5 separate regions of the Homo sapiens genome follow, and all the other regions are linked to region 5. The links come from fine-mapping of genetic effects on gene expression. A gene starts in region 5. Each other region holds a variant in brackets. All regions are shown on one strand. Distances are from middle to middle.

The links. PIP is the estimated chance that this variant, and not a neighbour inherited with it, causes the effect.
Region 1: its variant is fine-mapped to the expression of CCDC69 in whole blood (INTERVAL, PIP 0.96).
Region 2: its variant is fine-mapped to the expression of CCDC69 in subcutaneous fat (GTEx, PIP above 0.99). The same link has a PIP of 0.9 or more in breast, fibroblasts, liver, lung, tibial nerve and visceral fat.
Region 3: its variant is fine-mapped to the expression of CCDC69 in whole blood (TOPMed, PIP above 0.99).
Region 4: its variant is fine-mapped to the expression of CCDC69 in whole blood (TOPMed, PIP above 0.99).

Annotation. Positions count from the first base shown.
Region 1 is chr5:151,242,600-151,246,717 of GRCh38, reverse strand. It overlaps LOC124901115 (a long non-coding RNA gene), which reads left to right. Exons shown (of 3, transcript XR_007059003.1): 3 at 1-1,046. Among named protein-coding and RNA genes, the nearest start is that of GM2A, 8.5 kb to the left of the region's middle. The variant T/C (reference allele first, on the strand shown) is at 1,909.
Region 2 is chr5:151,193,774-151,197,891 of GRCh38, reverse strand. The region is part of intron 4 of CCDC69 (coiled-coil domain containing 69); the gene reads left to right. Among named protein-coding and RNA genes, the nearest start is that of CCDC69, 28 kb to the left of the region's middle. The variant G/T (reference allele first, on the strand shown) is at 1,986.
Region 3 is chr5:151,182,991-151,187,108 of GRCh38, reverse strand. It overlaps CCDC69 (coiled-coil domain containing 69), which reads left to right. Exons shown (of 9, transcript NM_015621.3): 6 at 985-1,086; 7 at 1,568-1,687; 8 at 2,668-2,765; 9 at 3,495-4,118. The coding sequence ends at 3,672. Among named protein-coding and RNA genes, the nearest start is that of ANXA6, 27 kb to the right of the region's middle. The variant C/T (reference allele first, on the strand shown) is at 1,664.
Region 4 is chr5:151,177,178-151,181,295 of GRCh38, reverse strand. It overlaps CCDC69 (coiled-coil domain containing 69), which reads left to right. Exons shown (of 9, transcript NM_015621.3): 9 at 1-244. It also overlaps the pseudogene PDGFRL2P. Among named protein-coding and RNA genes, the nearest start is that of ANXA6, 21 kb to the right of the region's middle. The variant C/T (reference allele first, on the strand shown) is at 2,060.
Region 5 is chr5:151,221,632-151,225,749 of GRCh38, reverse strand. It overlaps CCDC69 (coiled-coil domain containing 69), which reads left to right and starts at 1,658. Exons shown (of 9, transcript NM_015621.3): 1 at 1,658-1,827. The coding sequence starts at 1,780. LOC105378230 (a long non-coding RNA gene) reads right to left here. Exons shown (of 4, transcript NR_160730.1): 4 at 1,400-2,274. RefSeq lists silencers at 1-222, 1,706-1,785 and enhancers at 1,906-2,105, 2,126-2,235, 3,656-3,875.

The DNA of each region.
Region 1 (4,118 bases), 21 kb before region 5:
GATCCAGAAACAGCCAGTAAAATACCTAGTCAACCTAGGACAATTTCAGCAGGCTTTACAAAAGTGTGGAATTCAAAGGCTCCCCATACTGGGAACTAACTAGCGACCCTAAATCAGGCCAGGAGATAAGGTACTTGTTAAAACACGCAAGGAGGGATCAACTGTTCAACAATTACAACCCAAATGGAAGGGACCATGTTCAGTAATACTGGCTATGCCTTCTGCCATCAAAGTACAAGGATTAGATTGGGTACATCTTTCAAGGATCAAGCCAGCAATACCAGAAGATCCGGACCAGGAACCTGAAGTTTCCATCAGCCACTACACCTGTGAACCTGTGGAAGCCCTGAAGTTCCTGTTTAAAAGACAGCCAAAAGATGAGTAAATGCCTACCAATTTTCCTTGGTGCCTTTGTTGCATAATTACCGTAGGCTGGATAATAGTAGTCATTTATTTTATTTTTGCAGTTTAATTGCCTTCTTCCAAATGGATAGAATCACTTCCTTTGTAGTAATTAAGTTGAATGTTTTAATACATTTTTATAACAAACATTCCTGACAGCATAGGTATCCACACCCAAAGTTCCCATTAAGTCTTTTAACCGAATTCATTTCCTCTCGCATAGAGACTATCAAGCCTCAGATGATCATGCAACAAGGTTTCCAGCCAGTTCCAAGTGAAGACACCACCCCTGGCCATCAAGAAGCCACCCTATCTTCACTAGACAGAGTAGGGAGAGAGTTCCATGATCTCCAACAGATAAGGACTACTCCCAAGTCAGCATGAAGCAGTTACAGAAGAAAGTCCATCAGTCCCTCTGCCTCCCATAAAGATTTATGGGGATCACGTCTCTCAGGGATGAGATGAGGCAGGAGAACAGGTCTGGAGGAAGGGAACCTAAGGTTGTTTCACAATGACTTCCTAGAACTAAACTGAAACGAAAACCCTAACTTTCCACACCTAAGTAACAAAAGGACCAGAGACTACTGCCTTTGCAAACCCTCACCTTGTCTGCACAGCAGATGGGAAATTAAAAGTGCCTCTGATTGGTTGGTGTTTTTTTTTTTTTTTTTTTTTGAGTTGGAGTCTTGCTCTGTTACACAGCCTGGAGTGCAATGGCACACTCTCAGATCACTGCAGCCTCTGCCTCTCGGTTTCAAGCAATTCTGCCTCAGCCCCCCGAGTAGCTGGAATTACAGGCACCTGCCACCACAGCTGTCTAATTTTTAAAATATTTTCAGTAGAGACGGGTTTCGCCATGTTGGCCAGGCTGGTCTCAAACTCTTGGCCTCAGGAGATCCGCCCGTCTCCAGCCTCCCAAAGTGCTTGAGCCACTGTGCCTAGCCAACTGGTTGCTTTATGCAGCCAATCAGATGTTTGCACAGGAGTGTGACCTTTGACATTTCAGCCTCCTATTGGTTGCTTTCTGCAACCGATCAGACTGATTGTGGGCCAACACTTCATTTACATGAAGGGAGCACCAAGTAGCCAATAGGAAACCTCTAGAGGGTATCTGGACCCCAGAAGATTCTGTATCAGGGGCCCTTGAGCTGCTGCTCAGGCTGCTCCCACACTGTGGAGTGTATTTTCATTTTCAATAAATCCCCACTTTCATTCTTTTTTTTTTTTTGAGACGGATGCTCTCTCTGTTGCCCAGCCTGGAGTGCAGTGGCGCCATCTCTGCTCACTGCAACCTCCACCTCCTGGGTTCAAGCGATTCTCCTGCCTCAGCCTCCTAAGTCGCTGGGATTATAGGCATTCACCACCACGCCTGGCTAATTTTTTGTAATTTTTAGTGGAGATGGGGTTTTGCCAAGTTGGCCAGGCTGGCCTTGAACTCCTGACCTCAGGTGATCCACCCGCTTAGCCTCCCAAAGTGCTGGGATTACAGGCTGGAGCCACTGTGCC[T/C]GGATGCATTCTTTCATTGCTTCATTCTTTTCTTGCTTTGCTGTGCGTTTTGTTCATTTCTTTGTTCAAAATGCCAAGAATCTGGACAACTTGCAGTCAAGACCCTCTACCAGTAACACAACCTCTTCATGAGATCCATGAGGAAGAGGACTTGCCCAGTGGTACACAGAAGAAGTGAAACTAGACATCACTTCTCCTAAGGCTGAACCTACAGATTATATGAGAGATGGCCATGTGGCTCTGCTCCAGGTGGACATGGGTGACAGATGCCGCTGTGGCTCTGCTCCTTGGTGGATGTGGGTGAGAGATGCTCATGTAGCTCTGCTCCTTGGTACATGTGTAGATGAGAGATGCCCACGTGGCTCTGGTCCTTGGTGGGTGTGTAGGTGATGGATGCCCCTGTGGCTGCGCTCCTTGGTACATGTGGGTGAGAGACACCCCTGTGGCTCTGCTTCTTGGTGGATGTGGGTGAGAGATGCCCCTGTGGCTCTGCTCCTTGGTGGAGGTTTGTGTGGTTGCTCAAGGTAACCACAATGCCAGCATGGTATGCCCTGCAGCATCACTGGAAAATAGGAAGGGGCTGCATAGACCCTTCCAGCATCATTCCTTGTCTATCTTTCTAGCAACCAAGTCCCCTCAACCCCATTACCCACCTCCTTTTGACTCCTACAGACACACTCCACCATAATACAAGAGGTCAACACCCTTAGTCAGTGAAAGGTTAACTCTCCCAGCCACCTCAGTGGCATATTCCTTTCAGATGAGAGTACCTGGCATCTCCACATAAAGGAATTTGGATGAAATTCTGGAAGGTCACAGACACAGTGACTGGAAACCAAACCATAAACAAGATGGAAGAAGGGAAGGGACATGTTCCCAATCAGGTAGACCCCGGCTTGCACCCTGGCCCTGCCACCTCCTGCTGAGAGAACCTCGGCAGGGCCTTAACCTCTCTGGCCTCAGTTTTCTCATTTGCAAAATGAAGATTCAAGATGATAATAATGAAACTACCTCTCAGTGAAAAACTATTCACTCATTGACTAATCGATTCAACTACTGAACAAGATAAAGGCCCTGCCCCTGCCCCCACAGGCACACCCCATCCGCCTATGACTAGAGTAAAGGGCAATCAGCAAAGAAAGAAATAAACAAGATGATAGCATCAAGTAATAATACTAGATGACAAAAAAAATCAGGTTATGGTAACACAAATTGGGGTGGGTTGCCTTTAGGGGTCTGATAAGAACTCTCTGAGGAGGTGGGCTTTGACTCTCCCCGGGAGAAACGAGAAACACTTGGGGAAAGAGCCAATGGAAAAATTAAACATGGTCAAGACCATCAGGCCATGCTTCCCAGCCGGGGCCTCACATTGCAGTCCTCTGTGAGCTTTTAAAAATCCCAACCCCCAGGCCACACTCTAGACATCTAAATCTCTCGAGATGGGACCTAACCATTGGTACTTAAAAAAAAAACAAAAACCCAGGTGACTAAGATGTGCAGCCAAGGTTGACATACAGTGATGTAAAGTATCTGACGTACATATAATAAGTGCACACATACATAGAAGTGACAATTATTAAAGCAAGGCCTCTGTCCTTGAAGAACTCACCTTCTAAGAGTGATTGGTTAGAATACTGGAAATTAGGCTGGGTGCAGTGGCTCATGCCTGTAATCCCAGCACTTTAGGGGGCAGAGGTGGGTGCTTGCTTACTTGAGCCCAGGAGTTTGAGACCAGCCTGGGAAACATGGTGAGATCCCATCTCTACAAAAAATACCAAATATTATCCGGCGCACATCTGTAGTTCAAGCTACTCAGGAGGCTGAGATGGGAGGACTGCCATAGCCCAGGAGGTGGAGGTTGCAGTGAGCTGTGATCGCGCCACTGCACTTCAGCCTGGGCGACAGAGCGAGACCCTGTCTCAAAAAAAAAAGTAAAATAAAAACTAGAAATTATTACCAGCTTACTATTAACGGCAAGGATCTGGGCCTTGAAATAATATGGCCCAGTACAACCTACCAGTCTTGCTTGTGTGTGGTGGGTATGGGTGTTGTTGGGGACCAGCCATGTATCTAAAGCCTGGGGTGTGTGTGTGTGTGTGTGTGCCCTGAGTGTTAAAAGTGCATATGAGGCAGGAGAATAGGGCCTGGAGGCAGGGAACCTAAAGACTTCCCAGAACTCGATCAAACTGAAACACTTTAGCTATGACAAG
Region 2 (4,118 bases), 28 kb after region 5:
GTAACTACATAGCATTCCAATATGCACCCTTGTTCATTTAACTGAGTCCCTTTGTTAGGCATTTAGGTAATTTCAAGATTTTTCTCATTGTCTATAACAGCAATGATACTTACATAATCAACCCCGGTTTTATAACATCTTTGTCACATTCATGATTTCAGCATTAGAATAACATCCTAATAGAATTGGTGTGGTAAAGTTTATGTATATCTATTTTTTATTTTGGTAAAATAGACATAAGATTTACCATTAGTGACATTTAATACATTCACAGTGCCATCACCCCAAAAGGAAACTCCCACCCACCGAGCAGGCACTTTTTTTGTTTGTTTTGTTTTTGTTTTTTTTGTTTTGTTTGTTTGTTTGTTTGAGACAGGGTCTCGCTCTGTTGCCCAGGCTGGAGTACAGTGGCACGATCTCGGCTCACTTCAACCTCCGCCTCTTGGGCTCAAGCAGTCCTTGCCCCTCAGCCTTCTGAGTAGCTACAGGCGCGTGCCACCATGCCCAGCTAATTTTTATATTTTTTTGTAGAGATGGGGTTTTGCCATGTTTCCCAGGCAGATCTCAAACTCCTGGGCTCAAGTGATCCGCCCACCTCGGCCTCCCAAAGTGCTGGGATTACAGGCATGAGCCATTGTGCCCAGCCTAAGCAGTCACTTCTTATCTTACCACTAGCCCCTGGCAACCACCAATCCACTGTCTGTCTCTATGGCCTTGTCCATTCTGGACACGCATATAAACGGGATTGTATAACCCACATGATCACCCACATCTGACTTCTTTCACCTTGGAATGTTTTCACCTTGAAATGTTTCCAGGGCTCATCTGTGTTGCAGCATGCATCTACACTTTGTTTCTTTTTACGGCTGGGTAATTTGCCATTGCACAGACACACCACACTCTACCCATTCATCATCAGTTGATGGACACCTAGGCTGCCTCCACCATTTAGCCACTGTAAATAGTGCCACTAGTACAGGCACCTACTTGAACAGCTGTTTTCAGTTCCCCCTGGGTGTACACCCAGGAGAATTGCTGGGTCATACGATCATTCTGTGCTTAACTTTTTGAACAACTGCCAAACTGTTTTCCACAGGGGCTGTACCACTTTATGTTCCCATCAGCAACCCACAAGAGTTCCAATGGTGGCACATCCTTTTCAACACTTGTTATTTTCTGCAACACCTGTTGCTATCCTAGTGCACATAAAGTGGTTTCGCATTGTGGTTGTGATTTGCATTTCCCTAATGCCTAATTCTGTTGAGCATCTTTTCATGTGCTTCTTGGTGACTTGTGTATCTTCTCTGGAGAAGGTTATGTATATTACTGATGTTACTGAAATTGACCTTGAAAATGCTTTACTGATTTTTCCTTTCATCATGAGTATTCGCATGGCCTTTCCCCAGAATTATTTATCTTCTTAAAACATGGCTGTGGCTGGGTGCAGTGGCTCACACCTGTAATACCAGCACTTTGGGAGGCCGAGGCGGGTGTATCACAAGGTCAGGAGTTCGAGACCAGCCTGGCCAACATGATGAAACCCCGTCTCTACTAAAAAATAAAATTAGTCTGGTGTGGTGGTGTGCACCTATAATCCCAGCTACTCAGGATACTGAGGAGGCTGAGGCAGGAGAATTGCTTGAACCCGGGAGGCAGAGGTTGCAGTGAGCCAAGATCTCACCACTGTACTCCAGCCTGGGTGACAGAGCAAGACTCCATCTAAAAAACAAAACAAAACAACAAAACACATGGTTGTGATTATTTTGTACGTAAAAGTGTATATCCTGTTCTTTTCATTTAACATTGTATCAAATATGTTTCCAAGTAATTATGCTGCTACTAAAATGTTTATAAAGGCAAGACCGTAAAGTACATGGCTTTCCTTATTTCTTGTGAGTCTAGACCTCTAGATCTCAAAACAGCTTTTGCATAATGTTGCCGGTATTTCACATTATGTCCTTAGATTTACCCAGATGGAATAACTA[G/T]AACAGAGGTCTGAATGATTTTAAGAATCTTGAAACATATTGCAACATTAGCACACATTATTGCAAACATTGTGAAATGGAATTAAAGTCCTTGCCTGGAAATTGAAGAATTGTGGTTTTGTGGGTGTGGGTGTGTGTGGGTGTGTGTGTGGGTGTGAGTGTGCGTGTTTTTTTTTTTTTTTTTTTTTGAGATGGAGTCTCACTCTGTCCCCCAGGCTGGAGTGCAGTGGCATGATCTCGGTTCACTGTAACCTCCGCCTCCCGGGTTCAAGTGATTCTTCTGCCTCAGCCTCCCGAGTAGCTGGGATTACAGGCACCTGCAACCACGCCTGGCTAATTTTTGTATTTTTAGTAGAGACAGGGTTTCACCATGTTGGCCAGGCTGGTCCCGAATTCCTGACCTCATAATCCGCCTGCCTCGGCCTCCTAAAGTGCTGAGATTACAGGCGTGAGCCACCTCGCCCAGCCGAAGAATTGTGTTTTAATAATACCATACCCTGTTGAACTGGGGCTATCACTCAACCTCCTTGAATCTTGGTTCAGTTTCTCTATCTCTAAAATCTACCTTCTGTACCTCACAAGACTTTATGGGAAAACAACTTTATTCTCCAAGCATTGCTTTGATATTATTTTTAGCGTTACAAATATATTAATAAGAAGAATTTCCTACTGTAACACCCAGGGGAGAAGAGATTGCCTGTCTTGAGTTTTTCCCATTAGTCAGAATTCTTCTATAGTTATTTTTAAATTGTTTGGCACATACTAAGTGCTACATAAGTCTATAATGAATGAATGAAAGCACAGGATGGTGGAAATATATGACATTTTATATGTATGGGGAGAGGTACACAGATAACCAGGAGAGACTAGTGGTGATTTTCCACATTCGATGACCCTTTGCTGTCTTTTTTTTATTTTTTAAATTATCATATAGTAAAATTGACTCTTTTTGAGGGGATGTGCATTTTCATAAATTCTAATGCATGTATAGATTCTTTTTTTTTTTTTTTTTTTTGAGATGGAGGCTCGCCCTGTCACCCAGGCTGGAGTGCAGTGGCGTGATCTCGGCTCACTGCAACCTCCGCCTCCCGGGTTCAAGCAATTCTTTGCCTGAGCCTCCCGAGTAACTGGGATTACAGGCACGTGCCACTATGCCCAGCTAATTTTTGTATTTTTAGTAGAGACAGTGTTTCACCATCTTGGTCAGGCTGGTCTTCAACTCCTGACCTCGTGATCCACCCGCCTTGGCCTCCCAAAGTACTGGGATTACAGGTGTAAGCCACCGCGCCCTGCCGCATGTATAGATTCTTGTAACCATCGCCACAATCAGGATACACAACAGTTTTATCACTCCCAAAAAGCCGTCTCAAAATACCCTTGTATTCACATCCTTCTCCCACCCTAACCCCTGGCAATTACTGATCTGTTCTCCATCTCTGTAGCTTTGTCTTTTCTAGGCTATTACATAAATGAAATAATACAATATGATTTTTTATATTGGCTTCCTTCATGCATCACGATGCCTTTGACATTCATTCCAATTGTTGCATATCTCAATAATTCATACATTTTCATTGTGGAGTTATATTCCATTGTTTACTCATTCACTGTTGCAGGACATTTGAGGCAATTATGAATAGAGCTGTTCTAACATTCATGTGCAGGCTTTGTGTGGACATAGGTTTTCATTTATCTTGGGTGAATACACAGGAGTGGGATAGGTCATATGATAAATGTATGTTTAGCTTTATGAGAAACAGCTAAACTGTCTTCCAGAGTGACCACTATTTTATATCACCATCTGTGATGTATGAGTTATACCGTTGCTACTTCATGCCAATACTTGCTGTCACTGGTTTTTTATTTTAGCTGTTCTAATAGGTGTGCAGTAATCTTCACCATAGGTTTAATTTACATTTCAATAACAACTCATGTGCTTATTTGCTGTCTACATATCCTCTTTGGTCAAATGTGTGTTCAGGTCTTTTTCCCATTTAAATTAACTTGCTTGTCCTTACTGTGGAGTTTTGAGATATCTTTATATATTTTGGACAAGAGTTCTTTGTATTTGCACATATTTTCTCCTAGCCAGTGGGGTGATTTTTTTCATTCTGTTAATAATGTCTTTCACAA
Region 3 (4,118 bases), 39 kb after region 5:
GGTGGATGCACAGGGACCTGTGGAAGGATGCAGGGAAGCATCTGACTCAATGTGGCTGTGCAGGAAAGATTTCCTAGAGGGAGTGAGATCTAAGCTGGAGTCTGAAGGATGGGTTGGAATTCTTTGGTAAAGAAGGGTAGGAAGGGTGCCTCAGGCAGAAAAAAAGCAATGTGTTCAAAGACATGGAGGAAAAAGGAAAAATATGGAATACCTGAGGAACCGAAAGATGTCCAGGATGCCTGGGGTATGAGTTTCAGTGGGAGAGGGGACTAAGGCTAAGAACGTGAGCAAGGGCCAGAGTGGAAGCCAGTGAGCCACCTTAAGGGGTTGTGCTCTAGCCTAACGGTAGTGGTCACGGTTCAAGTAGAGAAAGTTCTTGGCAGTGAAACAGTTTGGAGATAAGAATGTACCCTGCAGCTGGGGGACTATTGTGATGTTTGGCTGCAGGAGAGGATGTATAGAAGGAGCAGTGAGAGGTGAGCTTGGAAAAATTCATTGAGCCTGGTTTGGATGTGTTTTGAATGCCAGGCTAACAACCATCTTTTATAGCAGGACATTGTTCCCTGCAGTATGGGGAGCCGTTAAAGGCATTAAAGCAAGAGGTGGGGTTGGTATGTTCCTTTCATCTCCTCTCCTTCTCCCTCTCCTTCTCCTTCTCCCTCCCTCTCCTTCTCCTTCTCTGTCCCCCTCCCTTCCCCTCCCTATCTCCCTCCCCCTCCCGTCCCCCTCCCCTCCCCTCCCGTCTTCTTTTCTTTCCTCTTTTCTTTTCTCTTCTTTCTTTCTCTTCCCAGCATGCAATTCTGCACTGTAAGGGCTGGTAGATCTCAAGCAGTGGTCGAAGTATGTTGATGTTGCATTGTCATGTAGAGTAGCCAAAGACAGATTGAAGAACCCAAAACCGTTCTCCCTCTGGGATGTGGCGAAGTTCACCTACAGCATTTATGAGGCAGGCTTTGATTGTCTCCATCCCACTCCCTGCTCCAGGAGACCATAGACAGACTGACCTCACAGCTGGAGGCTTTCCAGGCCAAAATGAAGAGGGTGGAGGAGTCCATTCTGAGCCGAAACTATAAGAAACATATCCAGGTAGGTGGCAGCACCCTGGGCGCTTTTCCTCCTTGAATCTCCAGGGAGGTCAGGGCCGGGCAACAGGAAAGACCAGCCCCTCTTCAAGGACAAGACTCAGACCTGGCACTCTTACCTACACAAGGGCCTGGAAATAAAAGAGTTCCCATTTCACCGATGGGAAAATTAAGGCCCAGAGAGCAGCATCTGGAATAGTAAAGTGCTCACGTTCTGGATTCAGAGAGAACTAGGTGCACATAGCAAACCTGCCACTTAGCACAAGTGACTCAACCTGTCCGAACCACAGTCTCCTCATCTGTGGTGCTAGCACATGTCTCAAAAGGTGATATTCGGATACAGGGAGATAAAGCATATTAAACACTTAACATGGGCTGAGAGAGGAAGGTGGGTGACTTGTGAAAGTCCAACAATGAGTTGCTGGCAGAATGGGGAGGAGGGAGGTAGCCTACTGGCCTAATGAGGTCACTCTGTCCCTGTCTAGGATTATGGGAGCCCCAGCCAGTTCTGGGAGCAGGAGCTGGAGAGCTTACACTTTGTCATCGAGATGAAGAATGAGCGTATTCATGAGCTGGACAGG[C/T]GGCTGATCCTCATGGAAACAGTGGTCTGTGACTGGGAGTGGCTGGGGGATGCAGCCTCAGGCTCCCGCTTTCTGGGTGTTTCCTTTGTAAAGCATGCAGAGGGGAGGTGGTTTGAGGAGGTCCCAGCCTAGTTCACTCCAGCTTTGACCTGCCACCTGTGCTGACCACTGAGCATGGTCTGTGGCCAGGCTGGGTCAAGCAGTGGCTCCTTATCATCTGAGTCCTGTGCCTTTTGAGGCTACTGATGTTGCTGTAGCTTGGGTGACACTAGGGCAGGTAGCATTGAGAACACGGGAGGACAGAAGCCTCAGAAACCCTAGGGTTGAATCTAAGCAGAGATTATGTTGCTGTAGAAGTCTCCCTGGCCTCCTGTGTGCCTTACAACTTATAATTAAAAAAATAAAACTAAGGAGTTAACAAAAAGCTGCTGACTTTTAATTTTGCCACATGAGAATGTTTAAAAAAAAAGTCTTACAGGCACTACCATCTCATGTCACCATCCGTTCTTTTCTCAGGAAGGAAAGAGGGTAGGAGGGAGATGGGGAGCCAGGGTGTGTGCCCAGGGAGCCCTGGGGGCTTGAGTCACGTGACATGGAATCACCCACAGGGCTTTATTTTAATCAGATCATCTCAAACATTCCGTATAGATTTTGTTCGCTCATTTTTGTGGAAACACATAACAGACAAACTTAATTTTATTTATATAGATCATATCCTTCTGACTTTTGGAGAACAAAACATATTCTTTCTTCCATGAACTCATGGTGAAATGAGATGGTAGGGCCTGTAATTTTTTTTTACCATTCTCCTGTGGCAAAAAGCCGCAGCCCTTTGTTAACTTTTTAGTTTTACTTTTTTCTAAGTTACCTTATTGCTCCATGAAATGTAACATCTAGTCTAGAATGAATCAGTGCTTTCAGTGACCACAGATAAGAGGGAGGTGACAGCACACATCGTGCAGCGTGAGTTTGGCAGCTTTCTGAGCTCATTCTCATTGTTATAGAAAGAGAAAAATCTGATATTGGAGGAAAAAATTACGACCCTGCAACAGGAAAATGAGGACCTCCATGTCCGAAGCCGCAACCAGGTGGTCCTGTCAAGGTAGCTGTCTTCCTGCCTCCTTTACTCCCATCCCCACCCTTTTTGCCAAAATTCCCAGCTGGGAGAGTCTTAGAGGGGCCTGAGGAATGGACTGACAGGTGGGCCCAGGGCCTATTTAGGGAATGTGGCTCCTCTTTCCCTGGGAGTCAAGAAACCCAAGGGGGCAGTTCTGCTCAGAAACCAAAGTCCCAATGCCTTGATTAGTATCTGTTTGTCTCTGTCCTGGCTGAGTGTACTCTGTGGGAAAGCCCAATATAGGGAGGAGGAAACAGGAAATTTATAGTGCACCAGGCCTAAGTGGAATGAATCAGTTCTTAGGGCTTAGTAAATAAGAGCTAGTATCATGTGTCAGACATAATTTATTGAATACTGTACATATTTTCTCATCTAATCCTCATAATTACTCTAAGAGCTGGGTCCTATTCTTCTTCTTCCCATTTTACAAATGAGAAGACTGAAATTTAAGAAGAATGAATAACTTATTCAAGATTATATAGCTAAGTGGTAGAGCAGAGATTTGAAGCAGCTCAGAACTGCCTGCCTGTCTGTGAGGCCCCCGCTCCTTGGTCAACAGATTGAATTGCCTCTTGTATACAGGCCAACAAGGAGGGCAGTGGGGACCCTGCAGCAGGCTGCTGGTCCATCTAAGGAAGGCTTCCTGGGGGAATGGGTTGGTCTCTGTGGCAGCTGCTCCCAGTAGGCAACCCTGGGCTCTGTGTGCATCCACAGGCAGCTGTCAGAAGACCTGCTTCTCACGCGTGAGGCCCTGGAGAAGGAGGTGCAGCTGCGGCGACAGCTCCAGCAGGAGAAGGAGGAGCTGTTGTACCGGGTCCTTGGGGCCAATGCCTCGCCTGCCTTCCCTCTGGCCCCTGTCACTCCCACTGAGGTCTCTTTCCTCGCCACATAGGGTGCAGGGCCTGGGCCCACCACGACGCCTGAAGTCACAGCTCCTTCCAAGGTTTTTCTGGAGAAGACAGCAGGAGCCTCTCAGTTCTTTTCCAGGAAGGAACGAGGGTGGGAGCGAGATGGAGATCCTGGGTGTGTGCCCAGTGAGCCCTGGGGCCTTGAGTTACATGGAATCACCCACAGGGTTTTGGAGGCCCCGAGAAGCGTCTTCCCTTGAGTTGGCCAAGGGAATAAGCAAGAGGAGACATTTCCTCCCTGCCCCAGCACTCTGTCCCAATCCGAGAAGTTCCGAGGCTTTCCCAGGGGCAGTCTGTGTCACGCTGGCCATTTGACATAAAGGAGACAGCCCCTGGTCCCAGCTTGTCAGCTCTGCTGCCGACTTGCTGACTTATCAACTTCCTCTAGGTGTTTCCACTCCACCCTGGCCTGCTCAGAGCCTCAGTTTAC
Region 4 (4,118 bases), 44 kb after region 5:
GCAGTGAGCCAAGATCGCGCCACTGCACTCCAGCCCGGGTGACAGAGCAAGACTCCGTCTCAAAAAAAAGAAAAGAAAAAAGAAAGCATTGTTTTAATTGAGAGGGGCAGGGCTGGAGAAGGAGCAAGTTGTGGGGAGCCAGGCTTCCCTCACGCAGCCTGTGGTGGATGTGGGAAGGAGATCAACTTCTCCTCACTCTGGGACAGACGATGTATGGAAACTAAAAAGAACATGCGGCACCTTATTTATGTGACTTTTGTGTTTTTCTGGGAGGGTGGGGAGGTGGGTCTTCACAAGGACTTCTGCCAATGGTGGGGATCTCTGAAGAGTAAATCTGGGGCCTGGGTAGCCCACTCGTGGTTCTGGGCACTCTCCTCAAGCACCAAAGCCCCACTGGCCCTTGCTTTGCCCTAATTGTGGATGTGGGGCCTGGGGCTAGGGTGAAGCCTGGATTAAAGGATGGCCTTCAAAATAGACCAAGGCTTGGAGTGAGGCTGAGGTTGAAGTAAGTGGTGAAAACAGAGGGATGGGGTGGGAGAGACTGCGAGGATGAATGAGAAGTCACCTTCTGCACTGCAGGACCCCTCTTTGGCATCAGAAACACTGATGTTCCCACAGGTACCTACCCCTGATTCTGCCTATTGCTCCACATCCAGATGCCTGTGGCCAGGGAGGGAGCTAGGAAGGGGTAGAGGAGACACGAGGACCTCGAGTCACGTGGACATGGGTGGTGGCCAAACCAGTGCCCTGAAGGTTGGTGGCCCAGCAGGTGTAGACACCAGCATCCCTAGCCCAGGTCCCCTCCACATACAGGGTGCCCTCTGCCTCCTGCTGTACCTGGCTCTCCCCGTGTACCACATGGGCCTGTTCACTGATGTAGAGTGGTTGGCCCAACGGTAGGGGATAAAAACGGACTGTCCATCAGCTGCCCCAGGTGCATCTCTGACTCACACACCAGGGTCAGGTAAGAGGCACCATTTATCTCTTTGGGGAAAGGAGAAGTGACTTGCCCAAGGTCACACTTCAGCTTGGTGTCAGAGCACCTTAAAGGCCAGGTTCTTTGTGAAAAACGTTAAGCTTCTCAAGTCTGCAGAGAAAAGCTGGGTTTCCCTCCCCTTCTCAAAGAGTGTCCAGAGGTAACTCAGTCCAGGGAAGTACTTCCCAACGTGGGTTTTGTGGCCCTCTGCTTCTGTAGGGATGCTACCTCCTCAAAGGAGAGGAAGAGGAAGAATTTTACTACCAAAAGTGTTTTGGAAACATTAAGAAAAGCAAAGTGAAATTGGGTAGACTCCGACCACTGAGTCTGTTACATGTACCTGTGTATTTTGAATCTCCAAGACAGGTAATGGTTATAAGAGGAAGTGAGGTAGGGTGGGAGGGAACTTTCTGGTATTCCACCCTTCTAAAGAACATGTTGGGGAAATCCTGGTAAAGCCAAGCCAGTGTCTCCTGACCGTCTGTATGCTCCTTTCCCCTTCTTGGGTCTCAGTTTCCTCTTCTGACAAGTGGGAGAATGATCCTTTACCCTTTCCAATGCCTAAGGCCTCTGTGGAGTTCACCTTTATCACATCCTTGCAGCCACTGCAGGGAATGGAGAGATGAACTCGGGAAGTCGCTATGTGCCAGCTCAGGCTACACAAATGACTGGAGCGAGGTGGAGCCAGAGTGTTTTAAGTTCGGGGGGAACAGGGCACCCTCACTGGGTTCCACAGGGCACCCTCACTGGGTGCCACTGGCCTCCTTTTCAGGGCTACTGAAAGTGGTGATCTTGTCAAATCACAGCTTGTAGAGCACCTTGTTTCCCTGTCCTATACTGTTCTTAAATGGCCTCCAGCTGGGTGATAGCCCCTCATGGGTCTTTCTGAGCCACTCTTTCCCTGGGACCCATACAAGATCAGCTCACTGCTCACATGTCATTGATGGCTCCTGGGAGTCTCAAGAATGATGCTTGAGTTCCTGGGCCCACATGCTCCCCTGCATTCTCCACAGGTGGCAGTGGTGGGACAGATGAGTCTCTGGGTCTCATGTGGGTGTGACATGTTCGCCCTTATTCTTTCTC[C/T]TAGTACCACAGGTCTGGATCTTCCCCCTCCCTCTCCACAAGGCTCCTGTCAAATTCCAGCTCTTCCAGGAAGTCCTCTTACAAATGCCTCAGGTCCTCCAGGTTGGTAATATACCTTTTAGCACAGCCGTTCTCCAGATGTTTGAATTTCATGGGAGTAAGTTCTTTGAGAAGAAAGAAACACTACCTCTCCAACACCACTTGGGAAGGTCTGATCTCACAGCAGATGCCAAGGAAACAGTTGCTAACGTTCATCTCCTGTTACACATACACACCCAGCCACAGAGCCTGAGCATTTGCTCCAGCACCATCTTTGTGTGGCTGAGGCCAGTCTGGTCTCGGCTTGAATGTCACCTTGGAGATGACTCCCTAACCACTATATCTTAGGTAGACCCTATCGCATTGCCCTGTTTTATGCTCATTGTATCATTTGGCATTGTCTGCATGGTCACTTTTGTCCATATTTCACTTCTCCCTGCTTAGATGATAAACTTGCAGATAGCAGAAGCCATCTCTTTTAGACTCATCCTCATAACCTTAGTACCTAGTCCAGTGTCTGGCATGTGGCAAGTGCTCATTTTTGGTTAAATTAAGAAAGGAACAAATTATGCATTCTTACGCAGTAATCTGAGAAGTTACTATTTGAAAGATGAGAAAACTGGGGCCCAGAAAAGGGAAGTGATTTGCCCTAGGTAACTCAGAGAAGCAGCATCAGAGTTGGGACCAGAATCCAGGTTTATCAGATTCCCAGTCAAGCAGTAGCTCCATCCCACCATGATTGCTCTTGGTCCTAACTAATCCTTCACTCCCACCTCCCTGCCCCAACACTCCACCACCATGTACACACATACACACAGCCTCCATTACCCGCTGCTTACCTTCTGCCCTGAATATCCCTCGCTAAGGTCCACAGCAATCTCTGGCTCGGCCCAGAACCATGCAGGTCACACTGAAGTTTTCTCCTAGTTATACTGATGTTGCTGAAGCTTGGATGGTGGGTTTTGGGGAGGAAGATGGGTCTGCCATGGTTAAGAGGGTAGAGAAGTTAGAGACAAACATGTTGACTTGATTGTTAGAATTGTTGAATTGATGGTAGATAGAGGGATGGAGAGATGGATGAATAGAATGAATGGGCAGAATGGCTAAATGGGTAGAGGGTGAATGGTTGAGGTGGTTGAATTGATAGAGGATGTGTAGATGTATGAATGGGTAAAATGAATTAATGGAGTATGGGTAGGTGATGGAATGATTGACTGATGGAGGATTCATGCATGGAACAGTTTGACTTGATTGTGAATAGGTCAATGGATAGAAAGGCTGAGCTGGTATCAGCTGGTTCCATGGCTGATCGGCTGGCTGGACAAAACGGCTGACTACATAGAGAGTCATCAAAAGCTGATGTTGTTTAGAGCTCCATAATCCACAGAGCCGAAACCAGAGGTTCCTGAAGAAGGTATATCTCCCCATATCCTCCCCTTCCCTGCCCACCCAGAGCCCTAGACCCATGTGCAATTGATATAGACCAGAATGTACTTGGTAGAGATTTGTCTCATGCCACCTAGGCTGGCCATGCATAAGAGGGAGCCAGCCAAGGAAGCCTGGGCCTGGTGAATAGTGAAGCCCTTCTTCACATCAAAGGAGATGTCTGTCTCCCACTGGGACCTCCTCAGTGGGGAGCTCCCAGTGTAGTGCCATCTGGGCCAGGGGGTTTTTAACTTGGAAGGGAAGCAAGGCTGGATGATGAGTGCGCAGCTGTACCACCTCATAGTAGTTATCTGTAGGGACAAAGAGCTCCTCAGGGTCTGGGAATGTGGGGAAAAAGATTTGTTGCTTCCCAGTGGCTCTATTACCACCCAGGAGCATGAGGTCTTTCTTGGGGACCTGAAACCTCACTATCTCTTCCCATCCCCATTCTCTATGCTCCTTCCTGTCTCATAAGGAAGGGGTCCTGGACTGAGGATGCTGAAGACAAACTTCCTAGTTCCAGATCTGTCATTAGCTTGCTGTGTGTATTAAAGAAATCTTTCCCTCTCTGCACATGCAATCATGCACAATGCAA
Region 5 (4,118 bases):
AGCCATAGATTCCTAAGCCCCATCCCCAGAGTTTAGGCCAGGGGTGGGGCCCGAGAATTTGCATTTCCAACAAAGGCGGCTGGTAGTGCTGACACTGCTGATTTGGGAATCACACTTTGTGAGCCACCATTCTCTATTATACTTGCTTTTGAGAACCTAATAACACGTTTCCTTAGTTTCCTTTCTTACACACTTTTGCAATTGGTTTTGTACCCTATGGAGGGAGCAATTTTTTTGAGGTCTCATATTCTTTCCCCATTCATGACTCTAAGCCGTTTTCACAGCACACCTTTCCAAGAGTTTTGGGCCTGACTTTAATATTCCAATATACACGCAAATAGGCATACACACTGATTTTCAAAATTGGTTATCTTTTTCCTGCATTGCCATTTCAGAAACCTCAGCTAATAACAAAGAGAAGATAAACAAAAGCTCCTTTTCCTAGACACTGACATTTTATGTCCCATAGTCACCATACCTGGCCTGCCTCAAGAGGTTGTTGTGATGAATAACATCTATCCAAGATGGATAGAGTCAAATATTACAGATGCTTGTGAGGTGGAAAAAACTATCAGCCCAGAAGTGAGGAGGCATTAAAATTAAACTTAGTATTATTGGCCAGGTGTGGGATCCCAGGACTTTGGGAGGCCGAAGCGGGCGGATTACCTGAGGTTGGGAGTTTGAGATCAGCCTGGTCAAAATGGTGAAACTCTGTCTCTACTAAAAATACAAAAATTAGTTGGGTGTCGTGGTGCATGCCTGTAATCCCAGCTACTGGGGAGGCTGAGGCAGGAGAATCACTTGAACCTGGGAGGCAGAGGTTGCAGTGAGCCAAGATCGTGCCACTGCACTCTAGCCTGGGCAATAGAGCGAGACTCTGTCTCAAAAATAAATAAATACAATAAACTTAGTATTATGATTTATTTGTAGGCCATTGAGTCAAAGTTTAGGTTCTGGAGTTAGAACTGTATTCTGTGCAGTGGCTCATGCCTGTAATCCCAACGCTTTGGGAGGCCAGGGTGGGAGGATCGCTTGAGGGCGGTCGTTCAAAATCAGACTGGAAAAAAGAAAAGAATTTGGTTGGGTATGGTGGTGAGCCTCTGTAGTCCCAGCTACTCAGGAGGCTGAGCTGGGAGGCTCGCTTGAGCCCAGGAGTTTGAGGCTGCAGTGAACTATGATAGCGGCAAAAAAAAAAAAAAAAAAGGAACTGGATTCTATCTGGGCTGTGGTAACTTACTAGCCATGTGACCTTAGGCAAATCATGTTGCATCTCTGAACACCATTTTCCTCACCTGTAAAATGGAGGAAGTAATACCTTTGTTGCACTGATATGGCAAGAAATAGAAATAAAATGTATAAAACAACTGGGACAAAAACAGCCCTCAATGAATGATAGTTGTTAGTTTATCAAATAATTGCTTTAATTATTTTTTCCCCCGGCCCTTTCTTAGCTGAGGGTTCGGAAAAGCATCTGTTGCTCCTTGAGGTTTTCTTTTCTTCTGCCCTGACCAGAGCTTCCTATTATTTAGAAGGATTCTGGTCACCTGCCTCTGGTGGCGGCGCCGCTGGCCCTGCGGGCTACACTGAGGCCCCGCTCTTCGGGTATTTACGGCGGGCGGCCGCCCCAGCTCAGGCTCAAGACAGCGCTTCCAGGTTCAGTTTCAGGGTCTCGCCGGCAGCCCCAGCCGGCGGGCGCGGAGCGGGCAGCGGGGCCCGGATCGCAGGCTCCTCTGGGGGCCCCGGAGTTGGGAAGCGGCGTCCGGGAGCCCCCGGAGGAGGATGGGCTGCAGACACAGCAGGCTGAGCAGCTGCAAACCCCCGAAAAAGGTAAAGGGCGCCGGCGGAGAAGTTTGCTTTCAGAGGAGAGGGGAGTGCGGAATCGCTCCGCCGCAGAGGACTCGGCGCCCCGGGCTCTCTCTGGTCGGCCCGGGATACCGGACGGAGAACCTGGAGAGGCCAGCTCAGAGACGAGGGAGGCTCTGCTGGGAGGCGCCCTTTACCCCGGCCCGAGCCGCACCAAGCAGCCGAGTTTACAAACACGGCACCCGGGCCAGGGAAAGGCAGCTGATTCCCGCTGCCTCGGGTGGGGAGATGTCGTGTGTCTGTGGCAGGTGCCCTCTGCTTTCGGTCTGGGGCTGTTCGCTGTGTGGCCATGGACAAGTGACTTGACCTCTCTGGGCCTTCGGCTTCCTCCCCCCGGGGGTTAAAGGCTGATAATCTCAGGGCTGCTCGAAGAGTGTTCCACAGACTCGCAGTATCAGCATCCCTGGGGACCTGTCAGAAATGCAGAATCTCAGGCTCAGGCCCAGTCTTGCCAAGACAGAAGCTGCCTTTTAACAATATGCCCAGGTGATGACGCTTTAAAGTTTGAGGCGCTGGTCTTAGGGCTCTTGCAGGCCCCAGAGCTGGTGAGTGTGGGCTGCCCTTGGGGTAGCTGGGAGGGGCCAAAGAGGGAGGAGATCTACTGCGTTCTGTGGCCCTCTCCTCCCTTCCTGTCCTTCCCCCAAGGGGCCTTGGAGCTGGGTCAGGGCCCAGGGGACAATTCTCAGGTTTCTTGCAGTGAGACCAGCTGCCCCTTGGGGTCTGACGAGCCCAGAAGGTCAGAGCCTGGAGCTAGAAAGATAGCCTCCTCAGGGGACACTGTGAGGCAGAGGGGAAGAAGGACCCTCAAATTCTGGCCCCTTTTCTTACCACTACCTGCCCCCTAGCCAGGTGGGACTAGGTGATCCCTTAAACTTTATCATCATTCCCCCTTGAGACCTTGAGAGGCCCCAAACTGTGACAGTGTTTAATAGTTTTGCAATGAACTTTAGTCCTCCCTCTGCTCCTGCTTTGCTTGTGCCCTGAGTACAGGTTTTTCTGCCTAACAGTAGTCCTAGCCTGGAGGATTCTACTCCCTTCTCTGACACCTCCTGGCTTTCCTTGCTCTCCCTTTATTACCAGATTGAAATTCTCACCAACTCCTGACCTAGAAACCCTCATGTCTTTACTCACTCCAACAGGGAAACTGAGGCTTGGCTCTATCAGTAGAAGGAAGGGGCTGGCTGACAGGGATGACAAGGCGGAGAGACCTGAGCCTTGGCTGAGACTTGTAACTGAGCAAGTGGTAGGCAGACATTAGCCCTGGGTGTAAGTCCTGGTGGTGCCATAAACATACTGGGTGACCCCAAGCAAGCCCTTGTGTCTCCCTGGGTCTCAGTTTCTCCCTGTATGGGGAGTGATGAGCAGGATGATCCCTAAGCATCTGAGAGTCTGTGTTCTCTGCACCTGTGTCAACCTTGTAGCTTGCAAAGTGGACCAAGGGTGAATTCCATCTACCTAGAGGTGGAGGAAACGGGGAAGAGCCTGACCCTTCCACAAGCTGGAAGAGGAGGTCACAGTAAGCACAGGTTCTTTGGCTCCTGCTCCTTCTGAGAGACTTACCAGCTGTTCCTGCCTGTCCCTGGCACAGCCAAAGCTCTGAAGGGCAAGTAAAGCTGGCACAGCCTGTCTGAGTTGGAAAGGGCCTTTGGGTACTACCTGGGCTGACGCACCCACTATACAGATAGGAGGTTAAGGCCTAGAAAAGGGAAGGAGCATGACTGAGGTCACAGAGCAACACAGAGCAGAACCCAGGTATCTAGTCCCCTAGCTCCGTGTTCTTTGTCTCCACCTCCTCCCGCTGTGCTTCCAGTGGCTTCTTGATGACTTTAGCGTAAAATCTTTTACTCCTGTTGCCTCAGAGAACAGCCTGGCATGCCTTCTTGGCCCCAGCCATGCCAGGCCCCTGCCCCTATATGGCAAGATTTATGGGCTGTTTTTGTTTAAAGTTCTCATCCCTGTAGGCTGTGCTCCTGCCCAATTTCTCACCCAGGTGCCAACCCCTTGGAAGGCATGAGCTCCCAAGTTCATCCCCAACAGGCTACCAGCCCCCTGGGAGAGAGGGGGACTCCAGGGATGGGATGGACAAAAATGAGCTCAGGCTACAGAGGGGTTAGGTTCTGATAACCATGACTCACCCTGAGTGTTTACAGCATGCTTTCACATCCCGCCCAGTCTCACAGAAGCCCTGGAAGTTAGGCTGAGCTGCAGAATCTTTCCCACTTTACCGGGGAAACTGAGGCTCAGTGAGGAACGAT